2 separate regions of the Homo sapiens genome follow, and region 2 is linked to region 1. The links come from fine-mapping of genetic effects on gene expression. A gene starts in region 1. The other region holds a variant in brackets. All regions are shown on one strand. Distances are between the middles of the regions.

What was found. PIP is the estimated chance that this variant, and not a neighbour inherited with it, causes the effect.
Region 2: its variant is the best candidate, but not a certain one, in a credible set for the expression of CNN2 in whole blood (INTERVAL, PIP 0.87).

What each region holds. Positions count from the first base shown.
Region 1 is chr19:1,022,868-1,031,681 of GRCh38, forward strand. CNN2 (calponin 2) reads left to right here and starts at 3,741. Exons shown (of 7, transcript NM_004368.4): 1 at 3,741-3,857; 2 at 8,204-8,325. The coding sequence starts at 3,795. RefSeq lists an enhancer at 2,667-3,398 and silencers at 3,389-4,028, 5,518-5,693.
Region 2 is chr19:1,044,052-1,055,004 of GRCh38, forward strand. ABCA7 (ATP binding cassette subfamily A member 7) reads left to right here. Exons shown (of 47, transcript NM_019112.4): 11 at 526-693; 12 at 951-1,180; 13 at 2,179-2,355; 14 at 2,751-2,973; 15 at 3,106-3,327; 16 at 3,402-3,603; 17 at 4,844-4,954; 18 at 5,215-5,386; 19 at 6,870-7,001; 20 at 7,104-7,243; 21 at 7,398-7,535; 22 at 7,891-8,075; 23 at 8,163-8,235; 24 at 9,278-9,480; 5 more. Among named protein-coding and RNA genes, the nearest start is that of ABCA7, 9.4 kb to the left of the region's middle. RefSeq lists silencers at 1,175-1,324, 1,415-1,464, 7,065-7,229, 7,486-7,686. The variant C/A (reference allele first, on the strand shown) is at 5,255.

The DNA.
Region 1 (8,814 bases):
TAGAATGGTTTTCATATTTTGGGTTTTTTTTTCAACCACTTAAAAATGTAAGAGCCATTCTTAGCTCACAAGCCATACAAAAATAGGCTGCAGCTGGATTTGGCCCACAGGTCAAGAACACAGCTTTCCAAGAGAAAGATAAGCAAATAACAAACATAACTTTAAGTGTTCTGGTAGCCACAGTAAAACAACTAAAAAAGAGCAAGTGAAATTAATTTTAATAATATATTTTACACATCTCAAGTTATCCAAACAAGGTCAGGCGCGGTGGCTCATGCCTGTAATCTCAGCACTTTTGGAGGCTGAGGCGGGAGGATCATTTCAGCCCAGGTGTTCAAGACCAGCCTGGGCAATATAATGAGATCCTGTCTCTACGAAAAATACCAAAAATTAGCTGGGCACGGTGGTGTGTGCCTGTGGTCCCAGCTACTTGGGAGGCTGAGGCAAGAGGATTGCTTAAGCCAAGGAGTTGGAGGCTGCAGTGAGCTGTGATGGCACCATTGCACTCCAGCCTGGGCAACAGAGCAAGACCCCACCTCATAAACGAAAAAAAAGTGGCCGGGCGCGGTGGCTGACACCTGTAATCCCAGCACTTGGGAGGCCGAGGCGGGCGGATCACGAGGTCAGGAGATCGAGACCACCCTGGCAAACACGGTGAAACCCTGTCTCTACTAAAAATACAAAAATATTAGCTGGGTGTGGTGGCGGGCGCCTGTAGTCCCAGCTGCTCGGGAGGCTGAGGCAGAAGAATGGCCTGAACCCGGGAGGCGGAGCTTGCAGTGAGCCGAGATCACGCCACTGCACCCCAGCCTGGGTGACAGAGCGAGACTACTTCTCAAAAAAAAAAAAAAAAAAAAAGTAACTGAGATGTACCAAGTCTTCAGAATCTGGTGTGTTTCCCATCCATGGGGTGTTCCAATATGGATACCAGTGCTTCCTCAGAAATACTTATCTCCACAGTATTTAGATTTACAGCGTTTATACTGAAAAGGAAAATTCAGAAACGCTAAGGTATTTAAAATATACACGAGGCTGAGCACGGTGGCTCACGCCTGCAATCCCAGCACTTTGGGAGGCTGAGGCGGGAGGATCACTTGAATCCAGACTGGGCAACATAGGGAGACCCCATCTCTACAAAAAATTTAAAAATTAGCTAGGCATATGGCACATGCCTGTAGTCCCAGATACTCAGGAGGCTGAGGCAGGAGATTACTTGAGTCCAGGAGGTCGAGGCTGCAGTGAACTATATTTGCACCACTGCACTCCAGCCTGGGTGACAGAGCAAGACCCTGTTTCAAATATCTATATATTTACATTTATATGTATAATGTGTACATATGTGTGTATTTATGTATTTGAAAACTTTAATGTGTGTGTACATATATATATAGTCAAAAACGGAAATCATGTCAGTTTTTAATTTTTAACTGAAATTAATTGAAATAGCCCGGCCACGGCAGCTGACACCTATAATCCCAGCACTTCGGAAGGCTGAGGCCGGCGGATCACTTGAGGTCAGGAGTTCAAGACCAGCCTGGCCAACATGGTGAAACCCGCATCTCTACTAAAAATGCAAAAATTAGCCAGGCGTGGTGGTGCGTGTCTACGGTCCCAGCTACTCGGAGTCCCAGCTACATATATATGTGTATTTATATATATGTGTCTTCAAAAAATGGAATCTAGTGCCAGTTTTTAATTTTTAATTGAAATTTAAGAATAGGAAGTATTTGCTGGGTGCGGTGGCTCACACCTGTAATCCCAGCACTTTGGGAGGCTGAGGCGGGCAGATCACGAGGTCAGGAGATCGAGACCATCCTGGATAACACAGTGAAACCCCGTCTCTACTAAAAATACAAAAATTAGCTGGGTGTGGAGGTGTGCCTGTAGTCCCAGCTGCTGGGGAGGCTGAGGCAGGAGAATGGCGTGAACCCAGGAGGTGGAGCTTGCAGTGAGCCAAGATTGCGCCACTGCACTCCAGCCTGGGTGACAGAGCGAGACTCCGTCTCAAAAAATAATAATAAAATAAAATAAAAAGAACATGAAGTATTTGCTTCCCTGATGGCACCAGCCACACTTCCAGTGCTCAGTAGCCCCATGGCCAGTGGCTACAGTAGTAGATAGTGCCACATTGAAAATTTCCTTCATCTCAGAATAACAGAAATGGTCAGCACTGGTCTAAAATGACATGGGTCGGCCAGGTGCAGTGGTTCAAGCCTGTAATCACAGTACTTTGGGAGGCTGAGGCGGGTGGATCACCTGAGGTCAGGGGTTCGAGACCAGCCTGGCCAACATGGTGAAACCCCATCTCTACTAAAAATAAAATAAAATAAAATAAAATAAAATAAAATAAAATAAAATAAAATAAAATGTGTCAAACTCCTATTGATGCTTCAAAACCCCATCTCCCTTGCCTCCTCTTACATGCAGCTTTCCTTGATTCCTCCGACAGAGCCCCAACTCTCCCTCCAGTTCCTCCAGCCCCAAGCCTCTCATTCTGTCCTGTACTTGCTCATATAGGGAAACAGGGTGGGCGGGGTGGGGGGGTTCCGCCTGTGCTGGCTCATACAGGGAATCCGGGTTGGGGGTTGGTCTGTGCCAGCTCTGTCTTCCTGGGCATGGGCTGGGCCAGAGCTAAGGTCTCCTGAGAGCCAGCACTGCCTGGCAGGAGACTGTCCCGGAGACTTTTTAATAATTTATTATTATTAGGGTTTTTTTGTGTTTTTTTTTTTTGTTTTTTTTTTTAAGACGGAGTCTTGCTCTGTCGCCCAGGCTGGAGTGCAGTGGCGCGATCTCGACTTACTACAACCTCCGCCTCCTGGCTTCAAGTGATCCTCCCACCTCAGCCTCCTCAGTAGCTGGAATTACAGGCATGTGCCCCCATGCCCGGCTAATTTTTGTATTTTTAGTAGAGACGGAGTTTCGCCATGTTAGCCAAGCTGGTCTGGAACTCCTGACCTCAAGTGATCCGCCCGCCTCGGCCTTCCAAAGTGCTGGGATTGCAGGCGTGAGCCACTCGGATTTTTATTTTTATTTATTTATTTATTTTTAGAGAGAGGCTCTTGCTCTGCTGCCCAGGCTGGAGCGTCATGTTGTGATGATAACTCACTGCAGCTTCGACCTCTTGGGCTCAACGGATCCTCCCCCTTCGGCCTCAGCCTCCCAAGTAGCTAGAACTCCAGGTGCAAGCTACCGCACCCAGTAAGAATCCTATTCTCTTTTGGACTGACAAACTCCTACTCATCCAACAAAGCCCCAGCTCCAATGGCCCCTTCTCTGAGGAACCTGCCCTGGTTCCCTGGTCCACCTCCCAGCTAGTAGAGTTCCCTGGGAAGGGGTTAGACGCCTCTAAGTGGCAGAGAGGGGCCCTCATTCCTGCCCCAAAGGTAGCCTTCTCCCCTCCCCTTTCTGGCAGAAGAGAAGTCTGAGATGGAGAAAGAGTGAGAGCCGCCCACGAGCTCTGAGCAGAGAGCCCGCAGGAGTGCCACGTCCCGGCGGCCTCGGCCCCTCCCTGCCTCAGTTTCCCGTGGCATCAAAGGGGGCGAGGGGCCCCTCCAGGCCTCTGGTGACGGGGGTGCTGTGCCCAGGCGGGGGTCCGGGGGCGACCGAGGGGGCTCAGGAAGTCCGCGGCCGCAGGAATTCGGCGCCTCCAGGCCTTATAAGGACATTTGCGCTCCGGGCCAATCAGCGGCGGGGGCGTGGCGCGCGGAGCCCGGCGCGTCCCAACCCCGCGCCAGCCCGGCGGTCCCGTCCCGTCCCGTCCTGTGCGGCCCCGTCCCGCCGCCCGCCCGCCAGCCATGAGCTCCACGCAGTTCAACAAGGGCCCCTCGTACGGGCTGTCGGCCGAGGTCAAGAACCGGGTGAGTGAGGGGCGCCCCTTGTCCCCCCGACAGCGCGGCCGTCGCACGCTCCGACCGGTGCAGGAGCCCCCAGGCGCCCCCGGCACCTCCCGGGCAGGGAGCTTGGAGACCCGGGGCGGACGGGCCCTTGTTCTCCCTGACGCCTGGTGGGGGGATGTCTGCGGGCACCCCCTGAGGCTCCCGCGAATCTTGGGGAGCACCCAGGTCTGAGATCTGGGGGACGAGTGACCCATTCCCCCCCCCAACATCTAGGGGTAGTTGGGTCTGACTTCGTCCCCTCGCCATGGCCCCAGGACCCCCACGTGTGAAGCCCCTGGCGCCCACTCAACCTTCGAGAAGGTCCGTTCAAGGTCCGACAACGCTCTGGGGGTCTGGGGGGGACCCCAGCAACCCCGTCATCTCCTGGCCACACTTCTGCTTTTGGGGCCTCTTAGCTTTGGGAGGGGAAGGGGCATGGCCGAGTGGTTTTTGAGAAGTGTTACCCCCCCACAAACAGGAATTTCCTGGCCTCTGGGACACCTTGGGGGTGTCTTGGGGGGAGGGGCGGTAGCCGCTTTGCACGGTCTTTGTCTCCCATCTGACTAATTTAAACGGATAACAAAGAGGTTCTCTGAAGGTGGCCCTGAGATATGTGGGGTTTTGCAGCCTCGAAAGAAGAGCTGGGGCCCGGCAGGGCGCGGGGGCTCACGCCCGTAATCCCAGCACTTTGGGGGGCGGAGCTGGGTGGATGGCTTGAGCCCAGCGAGTTCGAGACCAGTCTGGGCAACATGGCGAAACCCCATCTCTATAATTAAAAACAAGCCAGGGCTAGGGGAGACACTTTTTAAGAGAGCACTTGTGGTTCTAGCTCAGAGAGGACCAGACACTTCTGCAGGGTCACACAGCAGGGTCCTGGACAGGATTCCCAGGGAAAGTGGGGGGCGGGGGTTGTGATGCGAGACCCACGGACAGGACCGGGACCTGACCCTCCAGGACCTTCCAGCTGGAGGGGGGTGTCGTCCCCGCCCACCCCCTCCCCCGACGCCCACTGGGCACCTGGGAAGGTGTCCTTACAGCTGACTTCTGCAGGGGAAACTGCCTCTGCACGCTCTGAGGGCACCGGCCCTGCCAGCCCCAACAGCCACCTGCCCGGCGGCACTCCAGGGCCGGCAGACTGGAGGGAGAATTCCTGCTTCCCCGCTGTGAGCCCCTGCAAGCCTTCAGACCAGCTCTTGGCCAAAAAGGGAGGCTGAGGCTTGGGGTGGTCAAGGCCTGAGCCAGGGTCCCCAGCCCGGGGCTCACGACTCCTCCTTCAAGGGGCCATCTGCACCCTGCATTCATAGAGCCCCCCGTGCAGTGGGGTGGGCACCCTGCCGCACCCTGCATACAGCCGGCTAAGGGCACCGGTGTCCACAGGGACCCAGAGACGTCGTTCCAGCTGCCCAGGGCCACACAGCCCACAAGTGACAGGGCCAAGACCGGAACCCAGTACCTGCTGGGCCTGCGGAAGTGGGAGCGGGCACAGGAGGGTGGGGCGGCTTCCGGAGACGGGGTGGGGTGGGGTGGGGGCAGGTTGATACCTGCCCTGGCGGGGGTGAGGACAGAGGCTGGAAGAGCCGCTTAGCAGGCTCCCCGCGCAACCCTCAGTCTGTCCGTTTGGAGGGTGGGCGAGGCGTCGGCCAGCTTGCCAGGGTCACGGAAGGGTCGCCTCCCAATTAGAAACCAGCTTCCCCCTGGCTTCCCGCTCACACCCGCTTTACCGGCTGCTTGAAACAGCCAGAGACCCGCCCCCCGCCCCGCTTCCCCGTGGCTCAGTTGACTCCCGGCTGGACGGCACGGAGGCAGCTCGGATCCACAGTGTCTGCGGCCTTGCATCCCGGCTTGGGGGTCCGGACCCGCTGGGAACAGCTGGTTCAGATTTAGCCGGGGAGGCAGCGCGCATTCCTGGCAGTTTGTGGTGAACAGGAATGTGCTGGAAGGCCGGCGGCCGGGCAGCGGGGGGGCGGGGGTGGGGGAGGACGGCAGCGGCTGGGGGTGGGGCCAGGGGACCTGGGCCCCTGAGCCGGCAGAGACGCGGCGCAGCTGGGCAAGGCAGGGCTGTGTACCCAGCAGCCACCGTTCTCATTCCTCGGGATCAAAGTTGCCGGCGGGGCGGGGCTGCCCCCGGGCGTGGAAAGCCAAGCTGGGTGGGCTGTGAGCTGGTACTGGGGGGCCTCCCCGCCTTTGCCTCCTCTGGGCTACGAGCTGTTTCCAGGCAGGTGCCAGGTCAGGGGACCCTAACCCAAATAATCCCAGGCAGGTCCAGGTCAGGGGACCCTATCCCAAATAATCCCAGGCAGGTCCAGCTCAGGGGACCCTAACCCAAATCATCCCAGGCAGGTCCAGCTCAGGGGACCCTAACCCAAATCATCCCAGGCAGGTCCAGCTCAGGGGACCCTAACCCAAATCATCCCAGGCAGGTCCAGCTCAGGGGACCCTACCCAAATCATTCCAGGCAGATCTAGCTCAGGGGACCCTAACCCAAATCATCCCAGGCAGGTCCAGCTCAGGGGACCCTAACCCAAATCATCCCAGGCAGGTCCAGCTCAGGGGACCCTAACCCAAATCATCCCAGGCAGGTCCAGGTCAGGGGACCCTACCCAAATCATCCCAGGCAGGTCTAGCTCAGGGGACCCTAACCCAAATCATCCCAGGCAGGTCCAGCTCAGGGGACCCTAACCCAAATCATCCCAGGCAGGTCCAGCTCAGGGGACCCTAACCCAAATCATCCTAGGCAGGTCCAGCTCAGGGGACCCTAACCCAAATCATCCCAGGCAGGTCCAGCTCAGGGGACCCTAACCCAAATCATCCCAGGCAGGTCCAGGTCAGGGGACCCTAACCCAAATAATCCCAGGAAGAGATGAGGAAGCGGAGGCTGAGTGGGGAGCTGTCCGCGGGAACCTGGGGAGATGGGTGCAGAGCAGGGAGAGGGATTTGATTTTTTTTTTCCTTCTCTCTTTTCTTTCTTTTTTTTTTTAAGACAGAGGCTCACTCTGTTCCAGGCTGGAGTGAAGTGGCCCGATCTTGGCTCACTGCCTCCTCTGCCTCCTGGGTTCAAGCGATTCTCCTGCCTCAGCCTCCCAAGTAGCTGGGACTACAGGTGCCCACCACCACGCCCAGCTCATTTTTGTATTTTAGTACAGACGGGATTTCACCATGTGGGCTAGGCCAGTCTCGAACTCCTGACCTCAGATGATCCGCCCGCCTTGGCCTCCCAAAGTGCTGGGATTGTAGGTGTGAGCCACCGCACCCAGCCCAAACCCTACTTTATTCTCCCTCCAGCGTTTATCTCCCGCTCCCGCTACACGACCTGCCCCCATGCTTATGGCCCCCTATACACTTTGCCGTCTGCCTCAGTGCTGTCTCCGCGGTCACTAGTGGCTGGATAGGGACACTCGAGGTCCCCACTGGTGCACACCCACTGCCCAGGAGCACACAGCCCATTCCCCACGGCGGTGTCTCAGAGCACCGAAGGCCAAGAAAGCTGGAATGGCCGGGTGCAGAAAGGTGGCAGGGAATCGGTGGCAAGGAGCCAGGTGCGTGACTAGAGGCGGTCAGCCTCGGGGGCAGCTCCTTCGGGAGTTGCTAAGAAGCAGGATGGGGGCCGGGCGCGGTGGCTCACACCTGTAATCCCAGCACTTTGGAGGGCTGAGACGGGCAGATCACGAGGTCAGGAGATGGAGACCATCTTGGCTAACACGGTGAAACCCCGTCTCTATTAAAAATACAAAAAATGAGCTGGGCCTGGTGGCGGGCGCCTGCAGTCCCAGCTACTCGGGAGGCTGAGGCAGGAGAATGGCCTGAACCGGGGAGGCGGAGCTTGCAGTGAGCCGAGATCGCACCACTGCACTCCAGCCTGGGCGACAGAGTGAGACTCTGTCTCAAAAAAAATAAAAAAGAAAAAAGAGCTGATGGTTGCACAACATTGCAGACGTACGAAATGCTGTGAAATGGTGCGGTTTCAGGTGGTTGAAGTGGTAAACGTCAGGTGTGATATAGCGGGGAGGTGAGAAGGCAGGGCGGGGAGGCAGATCCGGCCAGGTTTGTCCTGCACCGGGAGTGGATTAGAGCTGATGTTTATCAGTGAGTTCTAAGCCGGTTGTCGGCCTGCTTGGAGGGCGGTTTATCTGTGCCCGCCTGCAGTGGCTGGGGCGCCCCCAATGATGGGAAAAGGGAGCATCTGCGTGGGTGTGGTGAGGGGGGACCTCCAGGCCGCTCTATCTGCTGTTGCCCTGGAGTCCCCGGCCCCACCCTCTGCAGAGCTTCTGTGGGGTTCCTGCTGGGGGTGCCCCCAGCCCAGCTCAGTCTCGTGCCCTTTGCTCCACCAGCTCCTGTCCAAATATGACCCCCAGAAGGAGGCAGAGCTCCGCACCTGGATCGAGGGACTCACCGGCCTCTCCATCGGCCCCGACTTCCAGAAGGGCCTGAAGGATGGAACTATCTTATGCACGTGAGTACACGCAGGGACACAGGCTGTCTCACACTTAACAAATCTTGGTTTTTCTCACTTTTTTTCTTAATTAAGAAATTTTTGGGGGGCCGGGCATGGCCTGGCTCATGCCTGTAATCCCAGCACTTTTGGAGGCCGAGGGTGGTGGCGGGGGGCGGTGGATCTCGAGGTCAGGAGTTCGAGACCAGCCTGGCCAACATGGTGAAACCCCGTCTGTACTAATAATACAAAAAAATTAGCCAGGCACCTGTAATCCCAGCTACTCAGGAGGCTGAGGAAGGAGAATTGCTTGAACCCGGGAGGCGGAGGTTGCAGTGAGCCGAGATCACACCATTGCACTCCAGCCGGGGTGACACAGCGAGACTCCATCTCAAAAAAAAAAAAAAAAAAAAAAAAAAGTTAGCTGGGCGTGGTGGCTAAATAAATAATTTTTTTTTTTTGAGGTGGAGTCTCACTCTGTTGCCCAAGCTGGAGTGCAGTGGCATGATC
Region 2 (10,953 bases), 22 kb after region 1:
CTCACCCTCTGAGTAGCTGGGACTACAGGCGCCCACCACCACGCCCGGATGATTTTTTTTTTTTATTTTTAGTAGAGACGGGGTTTAACCATGTTAGCCAGGATGGTCTCGATCTCCTGACCTCGTGATCCACCCGCCTCGGCCTCCCAAAGTGCTGGGATTACAGGCGTGAACTACCACGTCCTGCTTTTTTTTTTTTTTTTTTTTTTTTTAAGAGATGGAGTCTCACTCTGTTGCCCAGGCTGGACTGCAGTGGCGAGATCTTGGCTCACTGCAACCTCCGCCTCCTGGATTCAAGCAATTCTCCTGCTTCAGCCTCACAAGTAACTGGGATTACAGGCATGCGCCACCACTCCCGGCTACTTTTTGTATTTTTAGTAGAGATGGGCTTTCACCATGTTGGCCAGGCTGGTCTCGAACTCCTGACCTCAGGTGATCCACCCGCCTCGCCTCCCAAAGTGCTGGGATTACAGGCATGAGCCACTGTGCCCGACCCAGACTCTCACTTTCACCTGCGCCCCCCAGCGGCTCCTGCAGATGCAGGATGAAGGAAGAAGGCAGCCCAGACCTGGAGGCCGGGACCACATGGAGGCCCTGCGATCCTTTCTGGACCCTGGGAGCGGTGGCTACAGCTGGCAGGACGCACACGCTGATGTGGGGCACCTGGTGGGCACGCTGGGCCGAGTGACGGAGGTGAGGGCCTGTCCACCTGCGGGGTCTGTTTCAGTGGGGAGGGCAGGTCCCATCCTAGTGTTCCCACCCTGGTGTTCCCAGGGGGAGGCGGGCCCGGCCCTAGTAAGAGCCTGGGATTTGTAGAGATCTCAGGAGGGAGCCGGCCGTGGGCCTACGAGGGGAAAACATGGCCCAGCCCCGAGGTCCAGGGGGAGGAGCGGAGTGGTCTAGGAGGCAGGCGGACCCCAGCGCCTAGGACTCACCCCCGCATCCCACAGTGCCTGTCCTTGGACAAGCTGGAGGCGGCACCCTCAGAGGCAGCCCTGGTGTCGCGGGCCCTGCAACTGCTCGCGGAACATCGATTCTGGGCCGGCGTCGTCTTCTTGGGACCTGAGGACTCTTCAGACCCCACAGAGCACCCAACCCCAGACCTGGGCCCCGGCCACGTGCGCATCAAAATCCGCATGGACATTGACGTGGTCACGAGGACCAATAAGATCAGGGACAGGTCAGGCGAGGGAGGGGGCGGGGGGATGAGGGACTGGGCGGGGCCAAGAGCGTGGTGGGTGGGGCCAGGCAGCATTCAGCCTATTGGAGACCATGATAGACAGGATCTGGGCTGTATCAACAGTGGTATGGTAGCCAGAGCCCGGGGCTCCTTAGACCAATAGGGGCCCGTGATGGGCGGGGCCTAGGTGCATGAGGGGCGTGGCCATGGGCCTGAGATAAGATGAGAGCAGGTATAGGTTGAGGGCAATGGTGGGCGGAGCCAGGTGTATTATTAGGTCCCTGGAATAAGGGTGGAGCTAAAATTGCACCGGGTGCTGAGCGCAGTAGATCTTGCCTGTTATCTCAGAACTTTGGGAGGCCAAAGTGGGAGAATCTCTTGAGGACAGGTATTCGAGACTAGCCTGGGCAACATAGTGAGACCGCCTCCCCCCCGCCCCCCTCCCCCACCAACCTCACGAAAATATCTTTAAAAATTAGCCAGGTGAGGCCGGGCACAGTGGCTCACGCCTGTAATCCCAGCACTTTGGGAGGCTGAGGCGGGCGGATCACGAGGTCAGGAGATCAAGACCATCCTGACTAACTCGGTGAAACCCTGCCTCTACTAAAAAAAAAAAGTACAAAAAATTAGCCGGGCGTGGTAGCACGCGCCTGTAGGCCCAGCTACCCAGGAGGCTGAGGCAGGAGAATCGCTTGAACCCAGGAGGCGGAGGTTGCAGTGAGCCGAGATGGCGCCACTGCACTCCAGCCTGGGCGATAGAGCGAGACTCCGTCTCAAACAAATGAATAAATGAATAAAATTAGCCAGGCGACTTGGGAGGCCGAGCTGGGGGGATCGTTTGATCCCGGGAGGTCAAGGCTGCAGTGAGCTATGATTGCAGCTCTTCACTCCAGCCTGGGCGACAGAGCAAGACCCTGTCTAAGAAAAAGGTTATTCAGGGTGGGGCCCCGGGAGTTTCTAGCCCTTCCCTACAACCGGCCACCATGCCCCTCTCGCAGGTTTTGGGACCCTGGCCCAGCCGCGGACCCCCTGACCGACCTGCGCTACGTGTGGGGCGGCTTCGTGTACCTGCAAGACCTGGTGGAGCGTGCAGCCGTCCGCGTGCTCAGCGGCGCCAACCCCCGGGCCGGCCTCTACCTGCAGCAGATGCCCTATCCGTGCTATGTGGACGACGTGTGAGCTCTGGCACCCCTCCCCGCTCTTCCCCGCGGCGGGAAGGTCCCGGGTGTGGGGGTGGGCCCAGGCTCTGTTGGGAACCTTCCTGCGGTCCAGGCTGCGAACTTTGCACCTTTACACCACTCCACGTGACCTGCTGCAGCGGGAGGAGCAGGGGACTCTGAGGGTCTGGTGGGGGGGGGGACTCTGAGGGTCTGGGGGCCCCCGGCGCAGGGACAGCCTGGGCTGCACTGATGCCTGAGAGCCAAAGGCTGGCTGGATCAGGTTCCAAGGAACAGGGAGGCAAATCTTCCCGCCTTGAGATCCCGGGACACGAACCAGTCGTGCCAGATGGTGGGCGGAGGGGGGGTCTGCGGAGGGTCTCCAGCCTCCACCCCAGCCGTCCCCACCCCAGGTTCCTGCGTGTGCTGAGCCGGTCGCTGCCGCTCTTCCTGACGCTGGCCTGGATCTACTCCGTGACACTGACAGTGAAGGCCGTGGTGCGGGAGAAGGAGACGCGGCTGCGGGACACCATGCGCGCCATGGGGCTCAGCCGCGCGGTGCTCTGGCTAGGCTGGTTCCTCAGCTGCCTCGGGCCCTTCCTGCTCAGCGCCGCACTGCTGGTTCTGGTGCTCAAGGTGGGCGCGCCTCGGCCTGCCCGGCTGCAGAATGGGTGCGCTGGAGGGTGACAGACAGGGGCGGCCCCACGTGGGTGCGCGCCCCCAGGCCAATCCAGGAGCTGCACCCTAAGCTCCCGTTGCCTCTCACAGCTGGGAGACATCCTCCCCTACAGCCACCCGGGCGTGGTCTTCCTGTTCTTGGCAGCCTTCGCGGTGGCCACGGTGACCCAGAGCTTCCTGCTCAGCGCCTTCTTCTCCCGCGCCAACCTGGCTGCGGCCTGCGGCGGCCTGGCCTACTTCTCCCTCTACCTGCCCTACGTGCTGTGTGTGGCTTGGCGGGACCGGCTGCCCGCGGGTGGCCGCGTGGCCGCGGTGAGAGCCGGGTCGGGCGTGGATGGGGGACGCCCCCCGCTTCGGCCGCTCACTGACCGCCCGCTTTTCCGCAGAGCCTGCTGTCGCCCGTGGCCTTCGGCTTCGGCTGCGAGAGCCTGGCTCTGCTGGAGGAGCAGGGCGAGGGCGCGCAGTGGCACAACGTGGGCACCCGGCCTACGGCAGACGTCTTCAGCCTGGCCCAGGTCTCTGGCCTTCTGCTGCTGGACGCGGCGCTCTACGGCCTCGCCACCTGGTACCTGGAAGCTGTGTGCCCAGGTGGGCCGTAGGGGGCGGGGCTCCGGGCCGGGTCGCACCTGCTTTGCGGGAGGCTGAGCTAGGGGTGTGGCCTCCAGGCCGTTTGGGGGTGGGGGGTGGCTTATTCCCTTGGAGAGAAGGCGGGGCTTCTTGGCACACGCATGCAGGTGGCTGCATTGGAGGGGCGGGGCCTGAGGCAGGTGGGCGGGGTTTCTGGGCCGCCTCATACCTGGACGCCCTGATTCCAGGTGTATGGCCAGAAGCTGGCACAGTCGCCGGGCGCTGTGGCTCACGCTTGTAATCCCAGCACTTTGGGAGGCCAAGGCAGGAGAATCGCTTGAGCCCAGGAGTTTGAGACCAGGCTGGGCAATATAGTGAGACCTCATCAATACAAAAAGTTAGCTGGGCGTGGTGGCACGCTGGGCGTGGTGGCACGCTCCTGTAGTCCCAGCTACTCGGGAGGATGGGGTGGGAGGATCACTCGAGCCCAGGAGGTTGAGGCTGCTGTGAGCCGTGATCCCACCAGCCTGGGCAACAGAGTGAGACCTCCATCTCTTTAAAAAAAAAAAAAAAAAAAAAGCTGGCTGGGTGCGGTGGCTCACGCCTGTAATCCCAGCACTTTGGGAGGCCGAGGCGGGCGGGTCATCTGAGGTCGGGATTTCGAGACCAGCCTGACCAACATGGAGAAACCCCGTCTCTACTAAAAATACAAAATTAGCTGGGTGTGGTGGCGGGTGCCTGTTTCCTAGCTACTTGGAAGGCAGAGGCAGGAGAAATGCTTGAATCCCGGAGGCGGAGGTTGCGGTGAGTCGAGATCGCGCCACTGCACTCCAGCCTGGGCAACAAGAGTGAAACTCAGTCTCAAAAAAAAAAAAACAAAAAAAAAAAAAACAAGGCCGGGCACGGTGGCTCACGCCTGCTTTCCCAGCACTTTGGGAGGCCGAGGTGGGCAGATCACGAGGTCAGGAGATGGAGACCATCCTGGCTAACACGGTGAAACCCCGTCTCTCCCAAAAATACAAAAAATTATCCAGGCATGGTGGCGGGCGCCTGTAGTCCCAGCTACTCAGGAGGCTGAGGCAGGAGAATGACGTGAACTGGGGAGGCGGAGCTTGCAGCGAGTCAAAATCGTGCCACTGCACTCCAGCCTGGGCAACAGAGCAAGACTCCGTCTCAAAAAAAAAAAAAAACAAAACCCCAAAAAAAGCCTGGTACACTCCTGGGGGGTGGGCTAAGCAATAACCCGCGCCCCTCCCCGCAGGCCAGTACGGGATCCCTGAACCATGGAATTTTCCTTTTCGGAGGAGCTACTGGTGCGGACCTCGGCCCCCCAAGAGTCCAGCCCCTTGCCCCACCCCGCTGGACCCAAAGGGTGAGGCACTACGAGGCTTAATAGCTGGTTGTCCACATATGCCCAGTTCCCCCCCAAAACGAGATTCCACAGATGCCAATGACAATGACCTGGACACCCCAACCCTCACACCTGCCCTGAAGACACTGCGGTCCCCAAGCTCCCGCAGCTTTTATAGGCCCCGGCCCAGCAGGTCCCGGATTCCACAGCCCAGCTCTGAGGGACTTGCAGGCCCCAGGACCCCCATGACCTCCATGGCTGAGTCCACCCCATCTCTGCAGTGCTGGTAGAAGAGGCACCGCCCGGCCTGAGTCCTGGCGT[C/A]TCCGTTCGCAGCCTGGAGAAGCGCTTTCCTGGAAGCCCGCAGCCAGCCCTGCGGGGGCTCAGCCTGGACTTCTACCAGGGCCACATCACCGCCTTCCTGGGCCACAACGGGGCCGGCAAGACCACCACCCTGTGAGCCCCCAACCACTCCCTCCCCGTGAGCCCCCCCACTCCCACCCCGTGAGCCCCCCCACCACTCCCTCCCCGTGAGCCCCCCACCACTCCCTCCCCGTGAACCCCCCACCACTCCCTCCCCGTGAGCCCCCCCACCACTCCCTCCCCGTGAGCCCCCCACCACTCCCTCCCCGTGAACCCCCCACCACTCCCTCCCCGTGAGCCCCCCCACCACTCCCTCCCCGTGAACCCCCCACCACTCCCTCCCCGTGAGCCCCCCCACCACTCCCTCCCCGTGAGGCCCCCCACCACTCCCTCCCCGTGAACCCCCCACCACTCCCTCCCCGTGAGCCCCCCCACCACTCCCTCCCCGTGAACCCCCCACCACTCCCTCCCCGTGAGCCCCCCCACCACTCCCTCCCTGTGAGCCCCCCGACCGCTCCCTCCCCGTGAGCCCCCCCACCACTCCCTCCCTGTGAGCCCCCCCACCACTCCCTCCCTGTGAGTTCCCCCACCACTCCCTCCCTGTGAGTCCCCCACCACTCCCTCCCTGTGAGCCGCCCAAACCACTCCCTCCCTGTGAGCCCCCCACCACTTCCTCCCTGTGAGCTCCCTGTGAGGCCCCCGACCAGTCCCTCCCTGTGAGCAGTAATGGCGCCACTGCACTCCAGCTTGGGCAACGGAGTAAGACCCTGTCTCAAAATAAATAGGGCGGGAGTGGTGGCTCACGCCTGTAATCCCAGCACTTGGGCAAGCCGAGGTGGGAGGATTGCCTGAGGTCAGAGTTTGAGACACAGCCTGGCCAATATGGCAAAACCATCTCTACTAAAAATACAAAAATTAGCCGGGTGTGATGGTGGCGTGCACCTGTAATCCCAGCTACTCAGGAGGCTGAGGCAGGAGAACTGCTTGAACCCTGGAGGCGGAGGTTGCAGTGAGCCGAGACTGTGCCGTTGCACTCCAGCCTGGGCAACAGAGTGAGACTCTGTCACAAAAAAATAAAAATAAACAAATAAATAAAAATAAGGCTATCACAGGGTTTTGGATGTAGCATTTAATAGGTGCTCTGTGGCCAGGCGTGGTGGCTCAGGCCTGCAATCCCAGCACTTTGGGGGGCCGAGGCGGGTGGATCACGAGGTCAGGAGATTGAGATCATCCTGGCTAACATGGTGAAACAGTGAAACCCCGTCTCTACTAAAAATGCAAAAAAATTAGCCGGACATGGTGGCGGGCGCCTGTAGTCCCAGCTACTCGGGAGGCTGAGGCAGGAGAATGGCGTGAACCCGGGAGGTGGAGCTTGCAGTGAGCCGAGATCGTGCCGCTGCACTCCAGCCTGGGCAACAGAGTGAAACTCCGTCTCAAAAATAATAATAATAATAATAATAATAATAATAATAATAAATAATTAAAAATTTTTTAAAAACAGAAATTAAAAATAGAAGCTCTGTAACTGCCAGTGCACTCTGTGAAGGGGGCTACTCTGAGACCCCTCTATCCACAGGTCCATCTTGAGTGGCCTCTTCCCACCCAGTGGTGGCTCTGCCTTCATCCTGGGCCACGACGTCCGCTCCAGCATGGCCGCCATCCGGCCCCACCTGGGCGTCTGTCCTCAGTACAACGTGCTGTTTGACATGTGCGTCTCGGCAGGCCCAGAGTGCAGCGGTGGGAAGGGACTGGACGCCCTCTGGGACTCTGCCTGCCATGTGGGTCACTCTGCTCTGTGCACTGGCCGCAGGCTGACCGTGGACGAGCACGTCTGGTTCTATGGGCGGCTGAAGGGTCTGAGTGCCGCTGTAGTGGGCCCCGAGCAGGACCGTCTGCTGCAGGATGTGGGGCTGGTCTCCAAGCAGAGTGTGCAGACTCGCCACCTCTCTGGTGAGCCCATCCCCAAGGGAGGTCACCTCACAGGGAGGGGCCTGGGGATTCATCCTGAAGGCAGGGGGAAGCCGGGTACTGAGGTCCACGTGGGTAGGCAACCTTGCCCAAGGCTGGGTGTGACACACTGAGGTCCCTTCCCCATCTCTACCAGGTGGGATGCAACGGAAGCTGTCCGTGGCCATTGCCTTTGTGGGCGGCTCCCAAGTTGTTATCCTGGACGAGCCTACGGCTGGCGTGGATCCTGCTTCCCGCCGCGGTATTTGGGAGCTGCTGCTCAAATACCGAGAAGGTAAGAGCTGGGGATTCTGCTCGAGGGGCCAGAAAAGGCTTCTGACAAGGAAGTGCTGGGGATGGGGTTTTGAGGAATGAGTAGGAGTTTGCTACATGTGGACCCCACTTGTTGCTATGGCATTTAGGGGCTACTGCTCAAATACCGAGACAGTAAGAGTTGGGGATAGACAGAGGTTCCCCTGGATTCTGCCTGAAGGGCCAGAAAAGGTTTCCAACAAGGAGGTTCTGGGGATGAGGTTTTGAGGGATGAATAGGAGTTTGCTTCATGGGGCAGACAACTCCTGGCAGAGGCCCCAGCTCGGGCAAAGACGCGGCGGCCTGATGGTAGTTGTGGGTTGGTCCCCCGTGCCTAGGTCGCACGCTGATCCTCTCCACCCACCACCTGGATGAGGCAGAGCTGCTGGGAGACCGTGTGGCCGTGGTGGCAGGTGGCCGCTTGTGCTGCTGTGGCTCCCCACTCTTCCTGCGCCGTCACCTGGGCTCCGGCTACTACCTGACGCTGGTGAAGGCCCGCCTGCCCCTGACCACCAATGAGAAGGTGGGGACCGGCCTTCTCCTGACCCCTGACCCCCGGGACTCTGTTCAGCCCTGAAGGCCAAGCCACTTGGTGCCTCTCTGCCCGCAGGCTGACACTGACATGGAGGGCAGTGTGGACACCAGGCAGGAAAAGAAGAATGGCAGCCAGGGCAGCAGAGTCGGTGAGGGCCGGGGTGGGAGACCCAAGGCGGGTGGGCAGTGGGGTGGCTGTGCCTTAACTTGAGGAGGAGGAGGGGGAGGGGGAAGAGGAGGAGGAGGGGGAGGAAGCGGCAGAGGAGGTTGAGGCGGAGGAGGAGGGGGAGGAGGAGGGGGAGGAGTAAGAGGTGGAAGGGGAGGCGAAGGGGAGGAGTAGGAGGGAGAGGAGGAGGGGGAGGGAGAGGAGGAGGGGGAGGAGAAGGGGGGAGGAGGAGGGGAAGGGAGAGGAGGAGGGGGAGAAGAAGGGGAGGAGTAGGAGGGGAGCAGAAGGGGAGGAATAGGAGGGGGAGGAGGAGGGGGAGGGAAAGGGGGAGGAGAAGGGGGAGAAGTAGGAGGAAGAGGAGGGGGAGGAGAAGGGGGAGGAGTAGGAGGGAGAGGAGGAGGAGGGAGAGGAGGGGGAGGAGAAGGAGAGGAGGAGGAGAGCACTTGAGAACCTGAGATGATGCCCCCATCCCTGGGCTGAGCCGGAACCATGAGACTAACTTGAACACTGACCCCACCTTTAACCCAACCAGGGCTGAGCCCAGAGACAAACCTACCCCTGACCTCCAACACTAGGTCCAGCACTGCCCTCAAGATCTCTTTTTGTTTGTTTCTGAGTCTTGCTCTGTCGCCCAGGCTGTAGTGCAGTGGTGTGATCTCAGCTCACTGCAACCTCTGCCTCCTGGGTTCAAGCATTTCTCCTCCCTCAGCCTCTCGAGTAACTGGGATTACAGGTGGGTTCCACCATGCCTGGCTAATTTTTGCATTTTTGGTAGAAATGGGGTTTCACCATGTTGGTCAGGCTGGTCTCAAACTCCTGACCTCAGGTGATCTGCCTGCTTCAACCCTCAAAGTGCTGGGATTACAGGCGTGAGCCACTGCGCCCGGCCGCACCTGGCCTACGTTCTTAACCCTGATCTCTGTCTGCCGGGACAGTCCCCTCACAGGTCACCAATGCCTCTTCCCCAGGGAGACTGGGGTGGGGCGTGAGCCGGGGCTCCCTGAAGCACCCCTTTGTCCACACAGGCACTCCTCAGCTGCTGGCCCTGGTACAGCACTGGGTGCCCGGGGCACGGCTGGTGGAGGAGCTGCCACACGAGCTGGTGCTGGTGCTGCCCTACACGGGTGCCCATGACGGCAGCTTCGCCACACTCTTCCGAGAGCTAGACACGCGGCTGGCGGAGCTGAGGCTCACTGGCTACGGGATCTCCGACACCAGCCTCGAGGAGGTGTGAGGCCTGGGTGGTGGTGAGGTGGGGCCAGGAGGAGGGCTTCCTGGAGGAGGTGGTGTTTTGAAGGATGAATAGCGTGTTTATGAGCAGCAAGGACATTCAGGGAGGAGGCATGGCACATGAGGAGCTCTGGTGGCTCAGATGTCCCTTGGGAAGGCCTGGGGGACCCATGGTGTAGGAGGGGTGGGGGGCTCACAAGCCCCCAGTTCTCCCTGTCGGTGTCCAGTCTCTGAGCCCCTGCTTGTCTCCCCAGATCTTCCTGAAGGTGGTGGAGGAGTGTGCTGCGGACACAGATATGGAGGGTGCGGCCACAGCTCCCTGACCCCTGACCCCAGTCCAGAGTGGGACCAGAGGCCAGGTCCCCATCCCTGGCTTAGTGTGGCCCAAGGCATAGCCTTTACCCTATACCTGATTCCTGATCCCCCAATCCGTGACCCTCAACTTTGACCCTGACCCCTGATGGCCCTGCAGATGGCAGCTGCGGGCAGCACCTATGCACAGGCATTGCTGGCCTAGACGTAACCCTACGGCTCAAGATGCCGCCACAGGAGACAGCGCTGGAGAACGGGGAACCAGGTAAGTCCTTCCCAGTGGCCCTGGGGTCCTCCCAGCCACCCCCCCACAGCAGCGTGAGCACTGACCCTCTCATCCCTCACAGCTGGGTCAGCCCCAGAGACTGACCAGGGCTCTGGGCCAGACGCCGTGGGCCGGGTACAGGGCTGGGCACTGACCCGCCAGCAGCTCCAGGCCCTGCTTCTCAAGCGCTTTCTGCTTGCCCGCCGCAGCCGCCGCGGCCTGTTCGCCCAGGTGAGGAGGGCTAGCACCAGGGAGTCGCATGGGAGTCCCTGAGTTCCCTACCCTGGCCGTCCACTCAGTGGCCTAATCCAAACCCTTACCCCCGTGTGTATTCCCAACCCAAAGCACATTTATTGAGGGCACTGGGGAGCCATGGGTGGTTGTAGAGCAGGAGCAGGGACAGGTGCAAGCAAGCCTGGAGGGTGGATGGAAGCAGCAGCTGATGGGCTGGTCCCCCAGATCGTGCTGCCTGCCCTCTTTGTGGGCCTGGCCCTCGTGTTCAGCCTCATCGTGCCTCCTTTCGGGCACTACCCGGCTCTGCGGCTCAGTCCCACCATGTACGGTGCTCAGGTGTCCTTCTTCAGGTGGGTGCAGAAGGAAGGGGCTGGTGGCAGGAAGACTAGGGACCTGGGGGTACAGCCCTGACCCTACATCTCCCCTCACACACAGTGAGGACGCCCCAGGGGACCCTGGACGTGCCCGGCTGCTCGAGGCGCTGCTGCAGGAGGCAGGACTGGAGGAGCCCCCAGTGCAGCATAGCTCCCACAGGTGAGGCGTCTTGTTGGCCTGGACCTTTCCCCTCTCTGGCCTCAGTTTTCCCATCTGGTCCCTGGCCAGGGAGCCTCAGGGGGCACCTGGAGCATCCCCTGTGCCCACCTGGGAGCTGGGAGCCTC